Regions from separate parts of the Homo sapiens genome. Here region 1 is linked to region 2. The links come from fine-mapping of genetic effects on gene expression. A gene starts in region 2. The other region holds a variant in brackets. All regions are shown on one strand. Distances are from middle to middle. Region 1 overlaps TAFA1 (TAFA chemokine like family member 1). Region 2 holds the start of SUCLG2-DT (SUCLG2 divergent transcript).

Region 1 (11,588 bases), 520 kb after region 2:
TACTCTGAAAAAAAATCAAAGAAAACACAAGAAACATGAGATACTGTTATTAACCTTAGCGGGTTTACTTGAAATATGTACATTATTCAAATGTACTAAGATGTAAAAACTGTCACAGAAACATGAAGAGGCCGCTTAAGAGCCCTATATAAATAAATATATATTCTGTCATATTTAATGGATGAATTACAACTCTAACTTGTCAGAAAACACATACATTTCTGGGTGTGAGCTGCCACTCAAGTATTTGCAAAGTGGCTCTTGAATGATTTGTGTGATTCACAACTTTGACATTATGTCTGATGAAATGTCAGTGATACAGCCACACATACACGAATTGGAATTCTAGATTTTAAATATGTAAGGGGACATATATTTATATGAAGGGCCTATTTTAAAAACTTCAAACACTTAAGAAACTTGAAGAATTCAAGACTTATTTTCCTATGAGAGTACATTTATAGAATGGGGCATGGAGACCGACAAGTCTTCACTCTCATATTGCTTATTGTCTTCTCAGTATTAACTCTGATATTTCTCAGGATCCTTGTAAATAGGCAACATGGTGTATTGTGTTGGTTTTTTGCCTTCCTTTATAGTGTTTTTAGAGCCCTTCCCTTCCCTTCATTTTTAAAGTCATTGTTTTTTTCAGAAGCATTTTGTTTTTTGAAACAGCAGTAGAACTGCCACTTAAACAATGCTCAAATAACAGGGTTATAGGATATTTAATTAAAAAAATATATATTTCTAACTTGCAAGAAAATGCATATTTTGGGACATGAATCTATCACCCAACATATTTTAAAAGTGGTTATTGAATGTTATAAAAACAGTGCAATGATAACTAAAACCTCTTATAGAAGTTTTATTCCAAATAAACAATGACATGGACTAGCAGTTTGTGAGAAATGCAAAAAAGGCCCCATTCCAGATCTACAGAATCAAAATCTGAATTTTAACTGGATTGTGCTTTATAGGCACATTATATTTTGAAAAGCATTGGTTTGCATGGAACTGAAAAATGGTGGTTGGTATTTTGGTTTAAAAGATAATTGTGGTCCATCGCAATAGAGGAAATAAGTAAATTGATATGGTTTTGCTGTGTCCCTGCTCAGATCTCATCTTGGAGTCCCACATGTTGTAGGAGGGACCCAGTGGGAGGTAACTGAATCATGGGGGCAGGTCTTTCCTGCCGCCAAGAAGACAGAAAAATGTGGGAAAGTTTGGAACTTCCTGGAGACTTGTTGAATGACTTTGACAAAAATGCTGATAGTGACATGAACAATAAGGTCCAGGCTGAGGTGGTCTCCGGTGGAGATGAGGAACTTGTTGGGAACTGGAGCAAAGGTGACATTTGTTATGTTTTAGCAGAGACTGGCAGCATTTTGCCCCTGCCCTAGACATTTGTGGAACTTTGAACTTAAGAGAGATGATTTAGTGTATCTGGCGGAAGAAATTTCTAAGCAGCAAAGCATTCAAGAGGTGACTTGGGTGTTGTTAAAGGCATTCAGTTTTATAAGGGAAGCAGAGCATGAAAGTTGGAAAATTTGTAGCCTAACAATGCGATAGAAAAGAAAATACCATTTTCTGAGGAGAAATTCAAGCCTGCTGCAGAAATTTGCATAAGTAACAAGGAACCCAATGTTATTGCCTAAGACAATGGGGAAAATCTCCCCAGGGTATGTCAGAGGTCTTCATGGCTGCCCCTCCCATCACAGGCCCAGAGGCCTAGGAGGAAAAAGTGAGCTGAACCCAGGGTTCTCCATGCTGTGTGCAGCCTAGGGACTTGGTGCCCTGCAGCCCAGCTGCTCCAGCCATGGCTGAAAGGGGCCAATGAAGAGCTCAGGTCATGGCTTCAGGGGATGCCAGCTTCAAGCCTTGGCAGCTTCCCCAAGGTGCTGAGCTTGCAAGTGTACAGAAATCAAGAATGAAGGTTTGGGAACCTCTGCCTAGATTTCCTAGTGTAGATGTATGGAAACACCTGGATGTCCAGGCAGAAGTTTGCTGCAGGCGCAGGGCCCTCATGCAGAACCTCTGCTAGGGCAGTATGGAAGGGAAATGTGAGGTTGGAGCCCCAACACAGAGTCCCTACTGGGGCGCTGCCTAGTGGAGCTGTGAGAAGAGGGCCACTGTCCTCTAGACCTCAGAATGGTAGATCCACTGACAGCTTGCACCATATACCTGGAAAAGCCTCAGACACTCAATTCTAGCCCATGAAAGCAGCCAGGAGGAAGTCTGTACCCTGCACAACCACAAGGGCGGAGTTGTCCAAGACTATGGGAACCCACCTCTTGCATCAGTGTGACCTGCATGTGAGACATGGATTCAAAGGAGATCATTTTGGAGCTTTAAGATTCGTCTGCCCTGCTGGACTTTGTGCTTGCATGGGGCCTGTAGCCTCTTTGTTTCGGCCAATCTCTCCCGTTTGGAATGGTTGTATTTACCCAACGCCTGTTTACCTGCTGTATCTAGAAAATAACTTACCTGTTTTTGATTTTACAGGCTCATAGGTGGAAGGGAATTGCCTTGTCTCAGATAAGACTTTGGACCGTGGGCTTTTGAGTTAATTCTGAAATGAGTTAAGACTTTGGGGGATGGTTGGGAAGGCATGATTGTTTTTGAAATGTAAGAACATGAGATTTGGGAGGGGCCAGGGGTGGAATGATATGGCTTGGCTATGTCCCCACCCGAGTATCATCTTGAATTCCCACATGTGGTGGGAGGGACCCAGTGGGAGGTAACTGAATCATGAGGGCAGGTCTTTCCCATGTTTTTCTTGTGATAGTGAATATGTCTCACAAGACCTGGTGATTTTAAAATGGGAGTATCCCTGCACAAGCTTTTTCTTTGCCTGCACCATCCACATAAGATGTGAGTTGCTCCTCTTTCCCTTCTGCCATGATTGTGAGACCTCCCCAGCCATGTGGAACTGTACATTCATTGAACCTTTTTTTCTTCCCAGTCTCAGGTACGTCTTTATCAGCAGCATGAAAATGGACTAATACATGAATATAAATACAGTTTACAGGCAGGATGCCATGGCTCATGCCTACAATTCCAGCACATTGGGAGGTCAAGGTGGGAGAATTGTTTGAGGCCAGGAGTTTGAGACAAGCCTGGGCAACATATTGAGACCCTGTTTCTACAAAAATTGAAAAAACTAGGTGAGCATGGTGTCAAGTCCCTGTGGTCCTAGCTATTTGGGAGGCTGAGGCAAGAGGATTGCTTGAGCCCAGGAGTTCCACCTCACAGTGAGCTATGATTGCACCACTGCACTCCAGCCTGGGTGACAGAGTGAGACTCCACCAAGTAAATAATAAAGTTTACAGATCATTTAGTCTCCCCTATAATTTTGATGAAGCTTTTTAATTGACAGGATTTGCATTAGTTCAAATACTTCCCATAGTGGGAAGTGCTATTACCATTTTGATATCATACTCATTAAAATTTGCATAATTCATGTTGCATGCACATACACATACATATTTACCACTTCTCTATTCCCACTAAACCCTGACCAATGTGTTTGTTCGTTTAGACAATGCCCCTCCTGGGACACCCAGGCCACATAAAATAGCAAAGAGTTCATTAGAATGGTGTCACCAGCATAGCTATAATTAAGGCTACATCAGCAATTTTGGGGCTTAAAACTCCATTGTAAAGTTGTATTCTGGGATGAAACTCAGCACAAAAGCTCAACCTGGGAGTAGATTGTTTACTAGTTCTGGGAGGAATGTGGGGGGAAATTGATTCAGTTGTTTATGATTCACTATATTGCTCATCTGGTTCTTGGTGGCATTTGAATTAAGATGTTTTATAGACTGGTGATCATCGAGAACTGGTATTTTCACCGAAGTCTTCATAGACCTTACTGAAACTGTAAATATTACAGAAACTCAGATGGTGTCAACTGTTTATATTCTATGAATGAGGACAAATATGCATAGGGATGCAATTAAAAGAGAAAAGGAGTAATTCTAATTAGGCAGAATTGGTAACATATTTCATCAAAGTAGGACGCAGAGAATTCCTTAGTTGCCCACATATTTCTGCCAAGTAGACACCAAGGCATGCTCCCTCGAATTTGCTCTGGGATATTTAATTGGTAAATCAACATTAATGATCAGAGAAGTTTAGAACCAGCTCTTTTAGAAAACTGAGATTCACACTTGACTTCTCTTAGATGTAGCTACAGAGCTCATGGCTAAAGAGAAAACCTCACTAATGAAAAAAGTCCTGGAATTCTGTGCTTCTTCAGCTTCTTTACTACTACCTTGCTCTTTTGAAGAGAGAAACTTGTCATCCTGAGACTTCTAGCTGTAGTAATCAGGAATATAATAGGAGTAAGCTCCTATTATATTCAATTTGTGATTAGATATATTGTCATCTTGGGTACAAGTTTAAATGTAGTTTTAGGCAGTTATCTAAAGTGTAGTCCCAATCTAAATAATTAGAAACTCCTAATTTTCCACAAGGGCTTAACTATTAATGGTGAATATAATAGTTACAAGCTGGAAGTCTTGAGGAAGACAGAACCAAGTTCAAATGCTCTTCCTACTCCTTTTATAATCTGTCTTGTCTTTGGGCAAATGACTTAATACCCATGACCTTCAGTTTCTCCTTCTAAACTCTGATGGTAATAATAGTAGATATTTCAGAGGATGGTCACCAAATTAAAAACTTAACCCTGGGCTGGGCATGGTGGCTCACGCCTGTAATCCCAGCCCTTTGGGAGTCCGAGGTGGGCGGATCACAAGGTCAGCAGATCGAGACCATCCTGGCTAACATGGTGAAACCCCATCTCTACTAAAAATACAAAAAATTAGCCTGGTGTGGTGGTGGGCGCCTATAGTCCCAGCTACTCGGGAGGCTGAGGCAGGAGAATGGCGTGAACCTGGGAGGCGGAGCTTGCAGTGAGCCAAGATGGCACCACTGCACTCCAGCCTGGGTGAGAGTGCGAGACTCCATCCCCCCCTCCCCAAAAAAAAATACATGACCCTGCAAAGCACCATACCTGGTATATGGTAACTATTTATTATGTTGTGTGATGGCCTAACCAAAATTTATTTTCAAGTTGTCATCTATTTCCTCATTCATTCACTCATACAACACATACTTATCAGTTGCTTCCACTGTGCCAGACATGCTGATTCAATGCTGGAAATAATAGTGAGCAGGGTTGGCATAATCCCTTTCTTATTATTTAATATTGTAGTGGAAGGAACAGACCAAAAACGTTATCAAAGAAGTAAAATGATCATGATTTTTTATAGGTGTTAGGAATGAAGCAAGCAAGGGGTTAAGATGGAAATTAATAATGGAGAGATGGGTATGAGAATTAATTCAGAGTGTTCAGGGAAGGCATCCAGGAGGAGGTATGTATAAAACTGTTACCTAACTGACAAACAGGCTGGAAAAAAAGCTCAGGAAAGATACTCCAGGCTAAAAGAGAAACAGATATATATGCCCTGGGGCGGAAATACCTTGGCATGCACAAGGATCTGAAAGACAGCTACTTGGCTGGACCACAAGGAAGGTAAGGTAGAATAATGAGATTAGCTGGGAAAAGGAGAAATGGACAAAGTAGCACAAAGCTTTGTTATCCACGTAAGGAGTTTAGATTCAATTTAGAGAATAGTGAGATCCCTAGAAGAGATGATGTACTGAGGTACACTGTTTAAGGAGGTGCTTCCAGCTGGTGGTGGAGAATGGCTTGAAGAAAGTCAGTAGTATCTCTCTGAGCTTCCTTATGGATCAAAGGGGAAATCCCCAAACACACGTCTGGGGCTATTTTGTAGCCAGTGAATTCTGTGATAAACTCGGAGATATTGTATGTTTTTACTGTTAACATATCAAGGAGGAGAGAAGGTGGTGCTAAGAACACACTTATTTGATGAATAAGAGCAGTTTTTTATAGCAGAACCACTCAAGACTACATAATTGCTATTTTGAAACACACATCATCATTCATAATTTCATTAGGCTATAACTTACTTCCAGGAAAACTATATTTTATGTCAACTCATCTTCCCTGAACAGAAACCCTACTTTTGGCATTTTTAAAATTTAAAATTCTAGGACATATACCAGATCAGCATATTTCTTTGATTTCTTTCCTCTGTATGTAGAAAATATTTTTAGGCTTTACAACCCTACATTACTAAATGACCTTCAGAACTTAATTTAAGTGCACAAGTATTACAGAATGAAAGTGGAATTCTGATCTTCATTAGGATTTTAAAATTTGGATCATGTTGTTCCTGCTCATTTTGTTCATCTTTCCATTTTTCCTCCTTTTAACATTGGTCTGCATTTTTAAAGAAAATGAAGTTGTAAAAATTGAACTAGGGGTTTTCTTTTTCTGTACTCCTTGTGTTTCTAAATTATTAAATAATAATGTAATAACAAGCACTTATCTAGTGATTTATTAAAGAACCTCTTGTTTGCAACTCCAGCCCTGGAGAACACTGAAAATGTTTTCTTTGTAAAGTTTCCAAAGTAACATCAGCTAATCTGCCTCTTCTTGATGTAACCGCACAATGCTAGAATTTTTCACTTATTAATTATCAAATAAATGAATTGGATAATAGATATGTGAAGTAGAAAATAGTTTCTTTTGGATTGTCAAATAAGGTGACTTTGCTTGAATGCATGCTCCTGAAATTTGGGAGGACAGTCTTCCCATCTGTCCTTCATTTACCTGACCCCATTTATTTGTATGTATGCTTGTGTGAATGCAAATAAATTATTAATTATGCTTAAACTCTATGAACAAATCAGCTAGTGTACACCAAATTTTGACGCTTGCATAAGATTCTTTCCTGCCTATAACACATAAT[T/TTTATTATTATTATTA]TTATTATTATTATTATTATTATTATTATTATTTGAGAGGGAGTCTTACTCTGTCACCCAGGCTGGAGTGCAGTGGCACCATCTGGGCTCACTGCAACCTCCACCTCCCAGTTTCAAGTAATTCTTCTGCCTTAGCCTCCCATGTAATGTAGCTGGGACTACAGGTGTGCACCACCACACCTGGCTAATTTTTTTTTTTTGTATTTTTAGTAGAGACAGTCTTTCACTATGTTGGCCAGGCTGGTCTCGAACTCCCGACCTCAGGTTATCCACCTGCTTTGGCCACTCAGAGTGCTAGGATTACAAGTGTGAGCCACCACATCCAGCCTATTTTATTTATATATGTCAGACTCATGTTGAGCTGGGTTTTCAGATTGTGAGCTGAAATGGCAGAGGAGCTAGATAGCTAGTAACAAGAGGTAAAGGATACTGAACGAGAACAGCATCACACCTGCAGGCAATTTTTGTTTGATTAGCCCATATTGTCCCAACATAAGAAGTTCAGATGATTTATCGTAAATACTGGGATTTATGGTTTCTTTTGAAAAATGAGCCAGTTGACAAAAGTCAGTAGGAGGTGAGTAGTGTCTGCCCCTTCTAGAGAAGATAGATACTTCCCAGTTTGCCCCAGTCCCTACAACCCCTTATTTTTCTTGGCAACTGACATGTTTCAGTCATTTACAATTCTTCCCTGGCCTCTGCAGACCTTTATGTGTGTGGTCACCAGAATAGCAACATCACCTATGTGGTAGGCAGCTTCTAATACGACCCCTGATGATCCTCTCCTCCTAGTTTTCATGCCCTTCTGTATCCCCTCTCTCTCTGTGTGGGCTAGGCCTAGTGACTTTATTCTGGAAAAAACAACCACAGAATACAGCAAAAACGAAGTGATGTGCCTTCTGAGATTGGGTTATAAAAGGTGGTGACTTCCATTTTGCTGGCACTCTTGGTCTTCCCTTCTCTAGCCTAGCTGGTTTTCATGAAACAAGCTGCAATGCTGCATAAACACACAAAGTACGGACGAGAAGGCCACCTTTGGCCAACGGTCAGCAAAAACCTTGGGCCCTTGGTCCAACAAACTACAAGGAACTGAACCCTGCCAACAAGCACATGAGTGAGTAGATCCTTCTCCAGTTAAGCTTTGAGATGAGACCATAACTGTTGCTGTCATCTTGATTGCAGCCTGGTGAGAGACTCAGTCAGGTGGGGCTGGCTAGTGGGGACCCAGCCAAATTGTGCCCCAACTCCTGATCTGTAGAAACTGTGTCTTGTTTTAAGCTGCTGAAATTTAGAGTAATTTGTTATGCAACAGTAGGTAAATAATATACCTTACTCCAGAGAAAGATGGTGCACTGACTAGAACATACAAAAAAAAAAAAAAAAACTTCCTTAGAATTATGTAAGTGAAGGCAGTAAATTTTTCTGTTCCAGTGAATATAGTTTTGGTCTAATAACTGATGTTGGAGGTACTCAGTAACTATGAAGTAAATTCAGGGTAACCAGTGGTGAGTTAGCTGTTATGAGAGACTGTTATACTGATAATGTTGCTAATAGGGTAATTATTATTTTTTATGCACTGTTTAGATTTATCTTTTAAAAATTCCCTTCATATGTGGTTCCAAATATTCTGATTATCTAAAGTATGTCTTAGATACAAAAATGTTAGAAACTATTGATCAAGACAAGTTCCCAGAATACTAGACTCCTAATGGAGATGACTGGAAATGGCTTAGACATCTGTTGTGGGCTCTCTCAGCACACATCGAAAGGAAAAGAGTGGAGGTTGCAACACTTTCATCTGTAAAATAGGGTGAAATCTAAGTTATGAAAGAAGCAGAGCAGAGCTAAAACATTGTCTCAAAGATCTGGATGTCATTCCTTACTTTTAAACTATATGATAAATACAGTTTACAGGCTGGGGATGGTAGTTCATGCCTGTAATCCCAGCACTTCGGGAGGCTAAGGCAGGAGGATCACTTGAGCTGGGGAGCTTGAGACCAGCCTGGGCAACATAGTGAGACCCCATCTCTACACAAAGCAAAAAACATTAGCTGGGTGTGGGTGGCACACGCTTGCAGTCTTAGCTACTGGTGAGGCTGAGGCAAGAAGATCACTTGATCCCAGGAGGTCAAGGCTGCAGTGAGTCATGATTAAACCACTGTACTCCAGCCTGGGTGACAGAGTGAGACCCTGTCTCAAACATAAATGAATTCATAAACAGACAGACAGACAAACTGTGTAACCCTTAATGGATTTCTCAGTATTACATTACCAGGTGGAAAATTGGATACTATTCATTTCTTTATTCAGCAAGCTTTGTAAAAGCCCCAGTGTTGTACTGTGTATTGTGCTCAGTATGGAGATACAAATGAATGAGATGTATAGTGTGATGCATGGTGCCGTCAGCTTCTGGGGTGGTGACATTTACATACAATGCAGTAGTATTTCATTCAAAACTACTAACAGTTTAACATCCAAATATCAGAAATGGGAATTAGAAATTATTGTACCAGGTTATTGCTTCAATTGGTACTGTTGTTATTACTAATTTATCTGATCCTATAGAATACTGAATTTATCACATTAACATGAACAACATCCAACACCCCTTTAAAGTACTTAATGCACAACACTCTTTTAAAGTACTTGTCAACATACACACATTTTAATGTGAGTTTTAACATAATGTCTTACAGCCCTTAAGTCATTTCTGTATATAAACCTTGCATTCTTGTAAACCCTACGTAAAACATATTGCTTTATGCACTATACACATTTATTAGCAATTTCAGCCAATTTAGTTTATTATTTAGTGATAATGTCATGTTTTATGGATGCTGTTTATATTTTATGCATATGGTGGTGATAAGAATAGGTTGGATTGCATTGAAAATATAATAAAAAGAAATATAATTTGTGTCTAGGTTCCAGAGGTTCATAGATAAAATGTTGAAACAAATCATCAAAGTCATGTATCTTTATTTCAGTTGGTTCAACCAACCCTCCCAAATAATTATCCTATCAGAAAATTCTTGCACTACTCAATACATTTGACCTGAGCAGTATGTGTGTAGTTTTATCATCAATCAATAGTATACCTGCCCCATCGCTTTGGGTGAAATGGTGGTTTGAGAGGGCTTTAATTCTTCAAAAGATCCATTGACTAGTTTTGCCCAAGTTCACCTTTTAAAGTTATCCCAGGACCACTTATTGTGCATCAAGTATGAGAAGTGGAGCAAAGGTTAATGATTCTTAATTGGACTTCATTAAGTGATAATATAAGATCTCGAGCTCCTCATTATGCCCCATGATTGGACAGCAATGTCATAACATCAGGAAATAAGGAACCAGAAGTCATGCATTGTCATACATTGGAACACTCTAGCAACTTATTATGTTTCAGATACATTGTCTTTAGTGAGGTATAAAAGTGAGGTGCATATTAATAGCTTGATGAAGTTCCCATTTTAAGACAAAGTATATTTTTGATGCAATAAAGACTTTGATTGGAACTATTATGATCAGAAGACTGTTGGATCCTGTATATCTTTTCTTATTATTTATTAGCTGCCCTCAACAGTGAGAAGGTTATTGGATCATTTCACAGCTTATGCAGTCTAATTGAAACACAGAATTTTGTTCATGCATCACTTTTGAATTTAGGGACTGTTCATTCTTTCATTACCTGTGTGGTGATTTCCAACCCACTTTGGTAATACAAGGGATTGTGATAGCATATTTGCTCCTAAGCACATTCTATTTAGATCAGAGTCAGTTCTATAGTTCTCATTTTGCTCTGAGAATGGGAATTGATGCATACAAAACAGTAGTAACTGTAGTTAACATGTCAGGGAAAATGAATGCACAGATGTGTACTATATAATGCCATGTGCTTCAGAGATAACCACAGTGAGGGATGTAAGCTAACCTTGGTCTTCTGTAATGCAAAGCTAATATATTCAAAAAGATATTCCCCTTCATTACGATTTAATGTAATTGTTCCTAATCTGTAACCTGAACAAAAAACTCAAATGTCTTATCCAAACACTAACATTAAGCTGCTTTTCTCCAGGATAGCGATATGACACTTTACATTCATATGCCTCAGAGAGGAACTGGACATCAAAAAGTGTCATACATGCTGTATTCTCCCTGAAATTTTCTGCGAATTTCCGTGAATAAGGAATCAAATGATTAGGTTGACACTAACATTTATGATAATTCAGATGATTGACAGAGGATGGATACGGTAATGAAATAGATCACCTCCACAAGTTACATGACAGCGATTTCAAAGCATTCTAAGTCCTACCTGAAAGCAAATATCAGGTTTGATAAACCTTGCAGGGCTGGAGGCTTAGAAAATTATTAGAGTCTGTATTTGGAAACACTGTGGCTAGAAGGTATACCAACATATTTTCTACATTTATGATGATAAGCACTGTGTGCATGTGTGTGTGTGAAAGCAAAAGAAAGAGAGCTGATTTTTATTCTCTATAAGGATAAAAATTATTATTTTTTGCCCCTGAAAACAGTCTGAAATGCTACATAGGTAATTTTTGGCATGTCTCTTCTATCCCTAAAGCAGGACTATTGATTAGCTCCAATATATACTGGGAACACGAAAGCTCCCATTTGCTAACAAAAACAGGTGTTGAACGAATATTAGGTTTGATTAAATGAGCAAAGGTTAACTACTCACTCATGTGAAATTGCTCTAGAGAAAGAAAGATATCAGGCCCAAAGAAT
Region 2 (11,588 bases):
TGGCCCACATCTGTAATCCCAACACTTTGGGAGGCTGAAGGGGGCAGATCACTTGAGGTCAGGAGTTTGAGACAAACCTGACCAACATGGCGAAACCCCATCTCTACTAAAAATACAAAAATCAGCCAGGCATGGTGGCGTGCATCTGTGGTACCAGCTACTCAGGAAGCCGAGGCAGGAGAATCGCTTGTACCCAGGAGGAGGAGGTTGTAGTGAGCCAAGATCAGGCCACCGCACTCCAGCCTGGGTGAGAGTGAGACTCTCTTTCAAAAAAAAAGTAAAATAAAATTGGAGACCTGAAAGGCAGTGCTTCTCCTACAAGAGAGCTCCATGAACTTCCACTAGCCAAAGAGAGGGGAAATACCCTAAGAGACAACAAAACTGTGCTTAGACTTAAGAACCATTTCAAACTCAGTGCCCTCAGCCAACATTTCCCCTAAGACTTGACTGGCAGTATGTACTCATATCTTGCCCACCATGGCAGTGCCTGGCTATATTACACCACCAAGTACTGCACACACTTTTCACTTGGCTATATGGACACAGCAACATGGCCCCTGTCTACCAGGATTTAGGTCTTTGGAAAGACTTCTAACCATGGTTAGACCCTTACTGCTAAATTCACTGAACACCACTCTGCTAAAAGTTTCAAAGCCAGCCTAACTTAGATTTATAACAGGGGGCGTGTACAGTACATTAATTACATGCCTGTGCTTTGGCTGCCAGGACTGGGATTCAGCCTCTGTATGGTTTAAACCCCTGAAACCTCCTTAGCAGACCCTGCAGGTCTCCACATGATTTGGCCCTTGTCTTCCTCTCAGACCTAGTCTACTACCACTTTCCCCCTCTAATTACCTAGACATGCCCAGCTCATTCTCATCTCAGTCTTTGCACTTGCTGTCTGCTCTGCCTAACACACTCTTCCCCTTAGTCTCACCTAGCTGGCTACCTTTCATCGCTCAGGTCTCAGCTCATATGTCAAAAAGGCCATCTCCAGGATCACTTACATATAATGCTGAGCAATGTGAAGTATGTGTATGCCTACATATAATTTCACCTAAAGTACAAAACTGAACAAAACCAGCGTTATAAGTCAGGGGACTGGTGACCCTTTGTAGGGTGGAGGTAGTGACAGGCAGGAGCACCAGGGGGCCTCTGGGTTGTTGTTAAATGATCGTTTTCTTCATCTGTACCTAGTTAGCTGGGTTTGCATTCAGTTTATGAAAATTCATCAAGTTGTTCATTTGTAATTGTTCATTTTTCAGTATGTCTTATATTTCAGTTTAAAAAATTATGCCAATCAAAAACACACCATATCAAATAGGTCTCCTCTGATCATCCAGTCTAAACTACCCTGCTGTGAAGCAATCCATTCTCCATCCCATGACCCTGACTGATTTTCTTCACAGAATCTGTCATTGGCTGAAATCATTTTCATTATTGGTTATATGTGTACTGGCTCACTCTCTCCCACCTCCATTAAAATAAAGTATCACGTGGCCAAAGACTCTGCCTGCCTCATTCACCATCCCCAAACCCCAGGGCCTACAACAGTCCTGCCAAATGGTATGGGCTGAATAAAAACTATATGAAAAATAAGAAATGACTAAAGTGGACCCTTTAAGGACGTACTATCAATCAAAAGTCAAAACAGTAAAGCTAACAGCAAAGGTGAAAAAAAAAAAAAAACTTCAATGACACTAAGCATCAGGAATATGTGTCAAATGTTAAATTTAACCATAGGGAGGAGGTAGACAAAATGTCATTCTATGGGTATCTTTGAGAGACCAGTTAAAGTTATTTCTCTAAGCAGAAACTGGGTCTTTTATTTCTGTACAGACAACAGTTTTTCACAAGGCCTGGTGGTATAAAATAGGTCTGGGCCAAGAGTGGCAACAGATTTCTGAGACACTTGGTGAGGATTCTTAAGTATGATGAGAGAAGTGGGCCATGTTTAACTGCAATGTCTGCCACGGGCAAGGGACTATGGAAACGTAATATCAAATCAGTGTACATGAAACAGATCATAGGAAGCACCCAAGAATTTGAAAATAGCAATACTCACCATTTTTATGGACAATTCTAAGATGGTCATAAAGAAAAAAATAAAAATGTGTCAGTGGTGCTAATGACTTGGATGTTATATAGTTACTACTGGCATGCAGATTAATTTGCATGTTGATATAATATATTTTCATGAGGAAGTATATACTCACCAGGAAACAGCATGGTGTAACGGAAACGTAAAGGTAAGCCTTTACTCTGGAATGCCACAAACTCTCACTGTATCGTTGAATATGTCATTGAACTTCTTTAGGCCTCAATTTCTCTACCCATGAAATGAGCTGGCTGGACTAAATGATTGCTAATGTCCATTTCCAGTTCTTGGACACTGTGTACCTTTCTATCTTTAAAAAAACCTACTTTTACCTTCTAAGAATTTACAGAAAAACACATCATCCACAAATATGTAAATCACAGTAACCAGATGGGGCGTGCTAACAGATCTTTTTACCCAGTTTTCTTGACAAACCAAGAGTATCTCTCCCCAACCAGATTTTCTCCTGTGTTGCGTTCAGCCTCTTATTTCTTGGTTAGGGAAGTAGGCTTCACATATTTCAGCTAAACACTCTGCATTTTCAGTTTCTCTGTACAATTCATGAGTTTTCACTGCCCTGGGCCCCATGTTTCTCATCAATTCAAGTCTACACTCATGGTAAGCACCCTAGTTCTTGTTTTTTCTAACACTTAAATAATGAATAGGACTTCATCTCCTAGAGCTATTCTCCTTACTCTATTACAACAGTTATTAGTGAGTTTTAATTAGACAAAACTGCCATTCCTTTTGCTACCTCACTATACTGTCAAGCACCTATTAAGAATATTACAGTAGTAAGTATTAGCACCTTTTAAATTTACATTAACAATAACAGAGAAATGGGGAGGCAGGAAATGAAAGGAGAGGGGTAAAAATAGCTCACAGATGTCATAACCAAAGTTTAGAGGAACTCAAAAAATCATTAATCACTATTTTTTAAATTTTCTAAAAAACTATACTATGCACATCCTGGTTAAAATTGTATGAGTGATAATTTGCCTCTCATCAATTAAAAATGGGGAAATAGGCAAGGTCATTAACTCTGCTGTGGCTGAATCCCAGACTGTGCTTTCTTTAAAAGGGAAGAGAGATAGTCTACGGAGACTAACCAGTTCAGTGGTTGAGTGATTTCTACAAGAGTCATCACCAACTCAAAACTTTCCTGAAGTCCTTCTGACTATTTTAACGCTTGCCATCTGCAGAAGGTAAAAATCTGCTAGAGGCCAAGTTCCAATCGCTATCCAGCCCACCACTGACCCTCTTTGATTTCATTCTCCATCAACAAGGAGGACATGGACAGGGTCAATGGTCTAATGCGTTTTAGTGACAGCCCTGATTTTTCATTGGAAAGAGGAGAAAGATCGTTTCCCATTTTTCTCCTTGACCCACGGATTTGACCAACTCAGGCACATTAAAAGTCTGCAAAAGCAGGTAGCCTGCAGGAAGTTCACCCTAGGGGGTGAGTTCCTAGTTGGGCTGAAACGGGTTTCCAGGCATGTTTATCACGTGGTCTAAACGTGCTCAGGGTTAGTGCCAGAAGTTTGAAAAGCAGAATTAGTAGAGCTGACAATAAAACCTCAGGGCTCCAAAACCCGGTCCAAGAAACTTTTCTTAAACTTGCGTCCAGCGCCTGCTTCAGCGCCTTCGCCATGAGTCTGCGCGGGCAGACAGCGGAGACTCTAGTGCGTTGGGTCGCTCATACCCCGAGGCACCCGGGGCTGCCGCCGCGCCGCCCCTGCCCCACACTGGAGCGGGGTTCCCTGCTGCGCCTGGACCCGGCGCCGCGTCACCTCCCGAAGTGGGGCGCCCGAGGGGCCGCGCAGGGGGTCAGGCGGAGACCAAGAGTAGCAGGGGGCGAGGGAAGCCCGGGCAGGCCGGCGCCGCTGCTGGCGCCCGCAGCTCCTGCCCCCACGCTCACCTGGGACCCGGCCGCCAGGAAGCGGGGCCGCAGCGCTAGGGCTCGCAGAAGCTTCCCGGCCTGCGCTGCTACGGGGGACGCCATCTTAAACAGGAAACTCGGCACGGGGCAGTAGGGCGGGCGCGGGCAGGGGAAGGAGGCGGAGGAGGAGCAGCGGGAGGAGGGGTCAGAGGAGAAGCGGGCGCGGGGAGGAAAAGGAGGAGGAGGCAGAGGCGGTCTGGGCCGGGCCGGGCCTGACCCCTGCGTCCCGGGGGCACAGGCGTTCTTAAGGCTGCAGAGCCCTGGGTCCCCCACCCGGCCCCGGTTCACTTTGAGCGGTCCCAAGGCCTGAGGGCCTACTGTCCAGTCCCCAGGTTATCGTCCTGAGCAAAGACAGACCCCGAGCCCTGCGGTCTTGGGGCTCAAACAGTCCCTGGATGGCCAAACAAGCAAATATTCGCCATGGCAGTGGGTGCTGGAAGGGTGGCTCACGGAGCTGACGCCCTCCGCAGAGAACCGTGGTCTAGTCCTGCGGTCACGAGGCCTATCTGGGACAGTGGTGTTTGAGCTGAGACTTTAACGAATAGAGACAGGTGAGGTTCCTGCAGCCCAGGGCTTCAGGTGAGTCAAGGAGAGGCCATTGGAGGCTCTCCATCCCTTAAGGAGTTGTGGGTGTTTTGTTTTGTTCTATCCTTAACCTAAAATCAATGTAAAGCTGAGAGATGAAGCCGGGTGGGTCGGTTGGGGACTTGGAGAACTTCTCTGTCTAGCTAAATGATTGTAAATGCACCAATCAGCGCTCTGTGTCTAGCTAAAGGTTTGTAAATACACCAGCCAGCCCTCTGTGTCTAGCTAATCAGGTGGGGACTTGGAGAACTTTTCTGTTAGCTAAAGGATTGTAAATGCACCAATCAGTGCTCTGTGTCTGGCTAAAGGTTTGTAAACACACCAATCGGCACTCTGTAAAAACGCACCAATCAGCGCTCTGTGTCTAGCTAAACGTTTGTAAATGCACCAATCAGCACTCTTTAAAAAGGGACCAATCAGCACTCTGTAAAATGGACCAATTGGCACTCTGTAAAATGGACCAATCAGCAGGATGAGGGTGGGGCCAAATAAGGGAATAAAAGCTGGACACCGGCGCCAGTAGTGGCCCCTAGTTGGGGTCTCCTTCCAGGTTGTGGTTGCTTTGTGCTTTTGCTTTTTGCAGTAGCTCTTGCTGCTGTTCACTGTTTGGGTCCGCACTATCCTTATGAGCTATAACACTCACCACAAAGGTTTGCAGTTTCACTCCTGAGGTCAGGGAGACTGCGAACCCACTGGGAGGAATGAACAACTCCGTATGCCCCACCTTCGAGGGCTGTAACACTCACTGCAAAGGTCTGCAGCTTCATTCGTGAAGTCAGCGAGACCACGAACCCACAGGCAGGAACAAACAACTCCGGACGGGCCACCTTTAAGAGCTGTAACACTCACTGTGAAGTCTGCGGCTTCACTCCTGAAGTCAGCGAGACCACGAACCCACCGGAAGGAAGAAACCCCAGATACATTTGAACATCTGCAGGAACAAATTCTGGTCACGCCATCTTTACCGCGAGGGTCTGCAGTTTCATTCTGGAAGTCAGCGAGACGATTAAGAACCCACGGGAAGGAACCAATTCCGGACACAAAGCTATTGGAGGATTTTAAGCCCAGTAATCAGAGTGATAAAAGCAACATTCATTTGGAGCTGTGAACCCCAAATACCTGACACAGGTCTCAATCAATTTAAGAAGTTTATTTGGCCACAGTTAAGGACACGTGCCTGTGACACAGCCTCAGGAGGTCCTGACATGTGCCCAAGGTGTGGTGGAGGACACAGCTTGGTTTTATACATTTTAGGGAGATATGAGACATCAATATATGTAAAATGTACATTGGTTTGGTCCAGAAAAGCGAGACAACTGGAAGCAAGGAGGGGCTTCTAGGTTATGGGTAGATAAGACACAAAGGGTTGCATTCTTTTGGGTTTCTGATTGGCCTTTCCAAAGGAAGCAATCAGCTGTGCGTCTATCTCTGTGAGCAGAGGGATGACTTTGAATAGAATGGGAGGCAGGTTTGCCCTAAGCAGTTCCCACCTTAACTTTTCCCTTTACCTTAGTGATTTGGGAGTCCCAAGATTATTTCCCTTTCACAGAGTTTACGCGAGTCTAAGCAATGTGCATATAATAAAAACAACAGCAAAGTTACTGAATGTGTGCCAAGCATTAGACAAATATAAACTTGTTTAGTCTTCATAGCAAAGTTTTAAATGAGTAGAAGTGTACAATCCCCATTTTGCAGAAGAGAAAACTGAGGTGCACAGAGGTTAAGTAACTTGCCAGAGGTGGCAGGTCTGATAAGAGATGAGATTCACATCCCTTCCACCCACCCCCAAATTAAGCACTATTTTAGATTTTTTTTTTTAACCTTACTCATTCTTGAGCATATGATCATGAAAAAAGGTACAATGTGACATAAGTAGACAGCTGTTGCTACTAGCTTCTTTCCTAATCTCTCTCTTTGGAAAGTGGGGGAGCTGAGGATTTTTATTTTAATATAATTTCTAGCCCATTTCGAGACATAGTTTTACCCACTAGATGTAGCATCTTTTGATGATAAGGATGATGATGATTGTTTAAATCAATTATTGTCACGATGGTGGCAAAGTGGCAAGGTCTAACTCCATCCTACATTTATTAGTCTGTATTCTACTCAGAAAAACTGCACTCTTTCCATCATCTCCATTGATGAAAGAAAAACTTCAGCTAAATTAAATGTAAAGGAGTTTAATTGAGCAATGAACGGTTCGCCAATCGGGCAGCTCCCAGAATCACAGTGGATTCACAGAGACTCCAGCGCAGCCACGTGGTGGAAGAAGATTTATAGAGGAAAAAAGGGAAATGACTTACAGAAATCAGAAGTGAGGTACAGAACAGCTGGATTGGTTACAGCTTGGCATTTGCCTTACACAGTTTGAACACTCAGCAATGTATAAATGGTTAAAATATGGCCACTGGGATTGCCAAGACTTAGCTGTTGTTTTAGGTCCATACTTCTAAGTTAGGTTTTCAATCTTGTCTACCTATTAAGCTAGGTTGCAGTTCGTCCACAAGGACTCAAATATAGAAGTACCGAGTCCTCCTTAGGCCATATTTAGTTCACTGTAACACTATTCGTCGGTGAATTGTTTTATTCACTTGTATCACTGTGGACTCATGGATTCTTTTTTATTAAATGGCAAACCGATGCTCTTTCCTGATACATACACTCTGCTGCCTCTGTTTTCAGTCATTTAATCTTCACAGGAGCCCTGCAAATGGGGTCCTACTATTATTCCCATTTTGCCAGAGAGAAACTTGGCCACAGAGTTCCACATGACATTTACATGACTCTAAGGTCAAGTAACTTGCCAAGGGTGACACAGCTTGGGATCAAATTTCCCAAAGCTGGACTCCAATCACTCTTAGCACCCTCCTCTTGACAAAACTGGATTTGAGTTTCCATATTGTTCATCATTACCCCTACTGGGTCCGCCGGGATAGAGCAAAGACTTGCTAATGTTTGAGAGTGAACGTTTAAACTTGGTGAGAGCTTGTGAACATTTTGCCAAAAGGAGGAAGACCACCTATAGAATTAATCAAAGGCTGTTTATTCAGACGTTACTATGCTAAGGGAGTTGGCTACTATCACTTTCCTTCCAAATGAGACTAGAAGTCGTTTGAAAGAAGTGTTAGTTTTATAGAGATAAAGGAGAGACTCTTAAGACTGTCTTTGATTGATGAGTGTTCTTTTAAGATGCGATTATTCTATTATGGGGGGATTTTTGAAAGTGGAGTCGGGAGAGGCTTTCTGATTGTCATCCAAGTACATTTGGTATTCTTTGATTTGTTTACTATCTACTGGTGCGTAACTTGGGGTCTTTCCAGGGTTAGCAGCCTCCTAAGAGTTTTCCTGTCTGAATTGGAAGACTGTCTCATCCTTGGTTCTGGGGTCCAAATCTTTCATCAGCAATTCCTCAGTGTCTTTACTCGTATTATCTCATTCTGCCTTCTCTGCAGGAAGGTGGTAGGGGAGAAGGGACAGAAGGAAGAAAGAGAACCATTTATGTAGCACCTCCAGTGTCTAGCACTGGACTTTGATTAGAAAAAGTAATCAATAAACATATGTGGAATGAATTGCATTATAGAGTTCCTCGTAAGATTTCTCCCTATTTCATACTCCCCGCTTCCACCCTCCAACCTCCCCCAAATAGGAATCTCTTTGAGAACAGGGAATCTAGATTCTACCAGAGTTCTGCACTGTGCTTTCCTGGAACAAGCATTAAGTTTTCAGCCAAACTGGATTGGATTCAAATCTGACCTCCACCCCCTTGAACACCTGTGACTAGGAAAATACCTGGTTCATAGGGTAGTAGTAAGTAGTCAATGATCAGATGTTGCATGTAAAGACCTTGCACATAGTAAAGACTTCATAGATGTTCTTTTTCTTCCTCTAGTGGGTCCATAACAAATATTTGCTTGATATCAAATGTGAAACACTAGGGCCAATCTGAGATGTAGGTTAGGAGACCCCTGACACTTTGTAATTTATCTTGATAGCACTGGAGAATTACAGAGATGTACAAATGCCAGACAAAAGTATTAAGAGTCTAAAGTGGTTGCCTCCAAGAAGAGGATAGAGAGTAGTGGTCAAGGAACCATTACATTTTGTTTTAGAGTTTCAAATATTCAGATTCCTGGTCTCCACCTCATACTCATGAAATCAGAATCACTTAGGATGGAGACTGGGACCTGCATTTTAAATAATCTTTCCAAAGTGTTCTTTAGTTTGAGAACTAAAAAAGCAAACAAAGCAAACCATAGTGGTGAACTCTGAAGATGTTTCCTGGTGAATCCAAAGACGAGTTACTCTGCTATCCCCCATTTGGTTCCTAAATATAGGACAAAAAGTTGATAAATCATAGATGGAGATGATGACTGGTGCTTTCAGAGAGCCTTGACACCTGGTACCAGACCCATTTTCTACCCGTGGTCTAAATCGGCTGCGACATGTAGAAGCATTGGCTTAAGGTGAATGAACAGCTATTCTACGCTTTTGCTGTGTCAAAATGGCAATTGTGAACTGCTTGAACAGTAACTATGGCCATAGGCAATAGCACTATTGAAAGCATTCTGCACTCTGATATCAGACTGAAGCACAGAGGTAGACATTGCAAGTGTTGACTCTGTGATTTAAAAGCTCCATGACCCTGGACCAGTTACTTAACAATCTCAATTCCTTGATCTGTGGAAAGGGGATTATGATAGTACCTATTTTGCCAATGAGATGCATCCTCAAACACTTGAGATCCCAGTGGCTGTTACCTACCATACCTTCATTATTTGACTAAGAACTCTTTTTCGTGTGTTTATTTCTTTAGTATTTACATCTGTGAACCTCAGTTTTCCTATTAGTAAAATGAAGGTCAAGTATGACATCTTATTTGAGCTGTGAGTTGACAGTGTAACACTTCTCATAAACTGCATGCATTTGAAATATGAAGTTGTAAAACTCTACGATTAAGCTTTGTATTTCTAGCACCTTGGCTATACTGTTTCTTATTCAGTTAATTGTTGCAAAAAGAAAAATAAAAACATCAGCAGGCCTATATGCCTTCGCTTTCATCTTAGCAGTGCCTGTTAACAGTGAAATAATGTGCTCATTTTCATATTCGCACTGATTACTCTAGGGGCGCAGATTTACCAGAGAGACATATCATGAAACCCAGCAAAGGGATACTGCATCTAGCAGTTCTGGTGGTGTTTTATCATTACCTTTTCACTTGAGCATAAAAACTGTTTGACAAATACTAATTGTAACCAGCAGAGCTGAATAGAATATTTTAAGAAACAACCCTAATTTTCATGAATTACATATTTGAGTTCATACTGCTGCATGTCAAGAATGAAAATCACTATTACAATGATGAAATAAAGGGCATCTGTGGATTTCATCTGGTTAATTTTTTAATGGATAACAGATTTCTGGAATTTACAGGAGACTAAACTTTTTGGTCTTTCATTGTATGCATAGGTAATATCACTGTTGCTATTTGTGATAGCCATTTTAACCAGTGATTCAGTTGTATTGTTTGCCAGTGGCACAGAAAGAATGGTCATTGTGCTCAAGTTATTTTTCCCTCTTCAATAATGCGTTAAAATGATTAATTTTGATGGTATTTCTCAGCAGCTTTATTTAAATGACGGTCCTCTGTATCTGTGGGTTCCACATCTATGATTCAACCAACTGCAGATTGAAAATATTCTGGGGAAAAAATAAAAAATAACAATAATAAAAAATGATACAAGTAAAAAATACAGTGTAGCAACTATTTTCATAGCATTTACATTGTATTTGGTATTACAAGTAATCTAAAAATGACTTAAAGTATACAGGAAGATGTGCATAGGTTATATGGAAATATTATGTCATTTTATATCAGAGATTTGAGCATCCATGAATTTTATTATCCATGGGAATTCCTGGAATCAGTCCTCCATGGACAGTGAGGGACGACTATGTAAGGTGCCTAGAAGAAAAGGGATTTATGACAAAAACTGTCTCCTTTGCCAACACTGAAGTGTGCTCAAGAGAAATTCTCACTGCATCCTGGAGAGAATTCACAGGAAGCAAGTTTAGAGCAGTGGTGACAGCTCAAAGTTAAGATAAGAAAGGAGGAAGAGTAAGGAACATCATTAACTTAGGGAAGGCCCAGCTGGAGACAAGGTCAGTGGAAGAGACTAAAAACAGAGAACAAGATGAAATGGTGGAAACAAGGGTGATGACATTCTTTTGGCAGGAAGTTTGGAGCTGGATGAAGAAGATGGTAAAAGCTGAGGAAAGAACATTTACACAAAGGACTGTGGAGGTTCTTGAACCGAAAGAGAAAAGTAGCATTAGATTGACTGTGGAAAAGAAGTTAGAAACAAAACCTAAATTCTTATTGCAATTGGAACCTGCGGAGTTCAGCACCTTCAATATTATTAAGATAGCTTCTTTTAAACAGTAAAGTAAAAATTAAAGGAACATTCTTTTACAAATGTCCTGCCTCATTATAAAGTGAGCAGCCACAGCAGTGGTTCTTTTTCTTCTTCTCTTTTTTATTTTTTGAGATTGAGTCTTGCTCTGTCACCCAGGCTGGAGTGCAGTGGCATGATCATAGCTCACTGCAGCTTTGAATTCTTGGGCTCATGCAATCCTCCCACCTCAGCTTCCAGAGTAGCTGGGACTATATATATGTGCCACCACACCCGGCTAATTAAAAAATATATATTTTTATACAGATGGGCTCACTATGTTGCCCAGGCTGGTCTTAAACTCCTGGACTCAAGCTATTCTCCCTCCTCAGCCTCCCAAAGCTATGGGATTACAGGCAAGAGCCACTGTGCCCAGCCACAGGCCATGGTTCTTAGCTTAGGTGTGTAACAGAATTCCTTTGGGCCATCCTCTCCAGAAGTTCTGATTCAGTAGGTCTGTCTTGGGGCTTGAGGATCTGCATTCTTATAAATAATGCCCCTACTCCACTGTCTTTGT

What was found. PIP is the estimated chance that this variant, and not a neighbour inherited with it, causes the effect.
Region 1: its variant is fine-mapped to the expression of SUCLG2-DT in subcutaneous fat (FUSION, PIP 0.95).

Annotation. Positions count from the first base shown.
Region 1 is chr3:68,173,173-68,184,760 of GRCh38, forward strand. All of the region lies in intron 2 of TAFA1 (TAFA chemokine like family member 1), which reads left to right. Among named protein-coding and RNA genes, the nearest start is that of TAFA1, 170 kb to the left of the region's middle. The variant T/TTTATTATTATTATTA (reference allele first, on the strand shown) is at 6,840.
Region 2 is chr3:67,650,487-67,662,074 of GRCh38, forward strand. It overlaps SUCLG2-DT (SUCLG2 divergent transcript), which reads left to right and starts at 4,211. Exons shown (of 7, transcript NR_109992.1): 1 at 4,211-4,616. It overlaps SUCLG2 (succinate-CoA ligase GDP-forming subunit beta), which reads right to left and starts at 4,126. Exons shown (of 11, transcript NM_003848.4): 1 at 4,017-4,126. The coding sequence starts at 4,100. RefSeq lists enhancers at 249-298, 3,933-4,432 and a silencer at 3,738-4,417.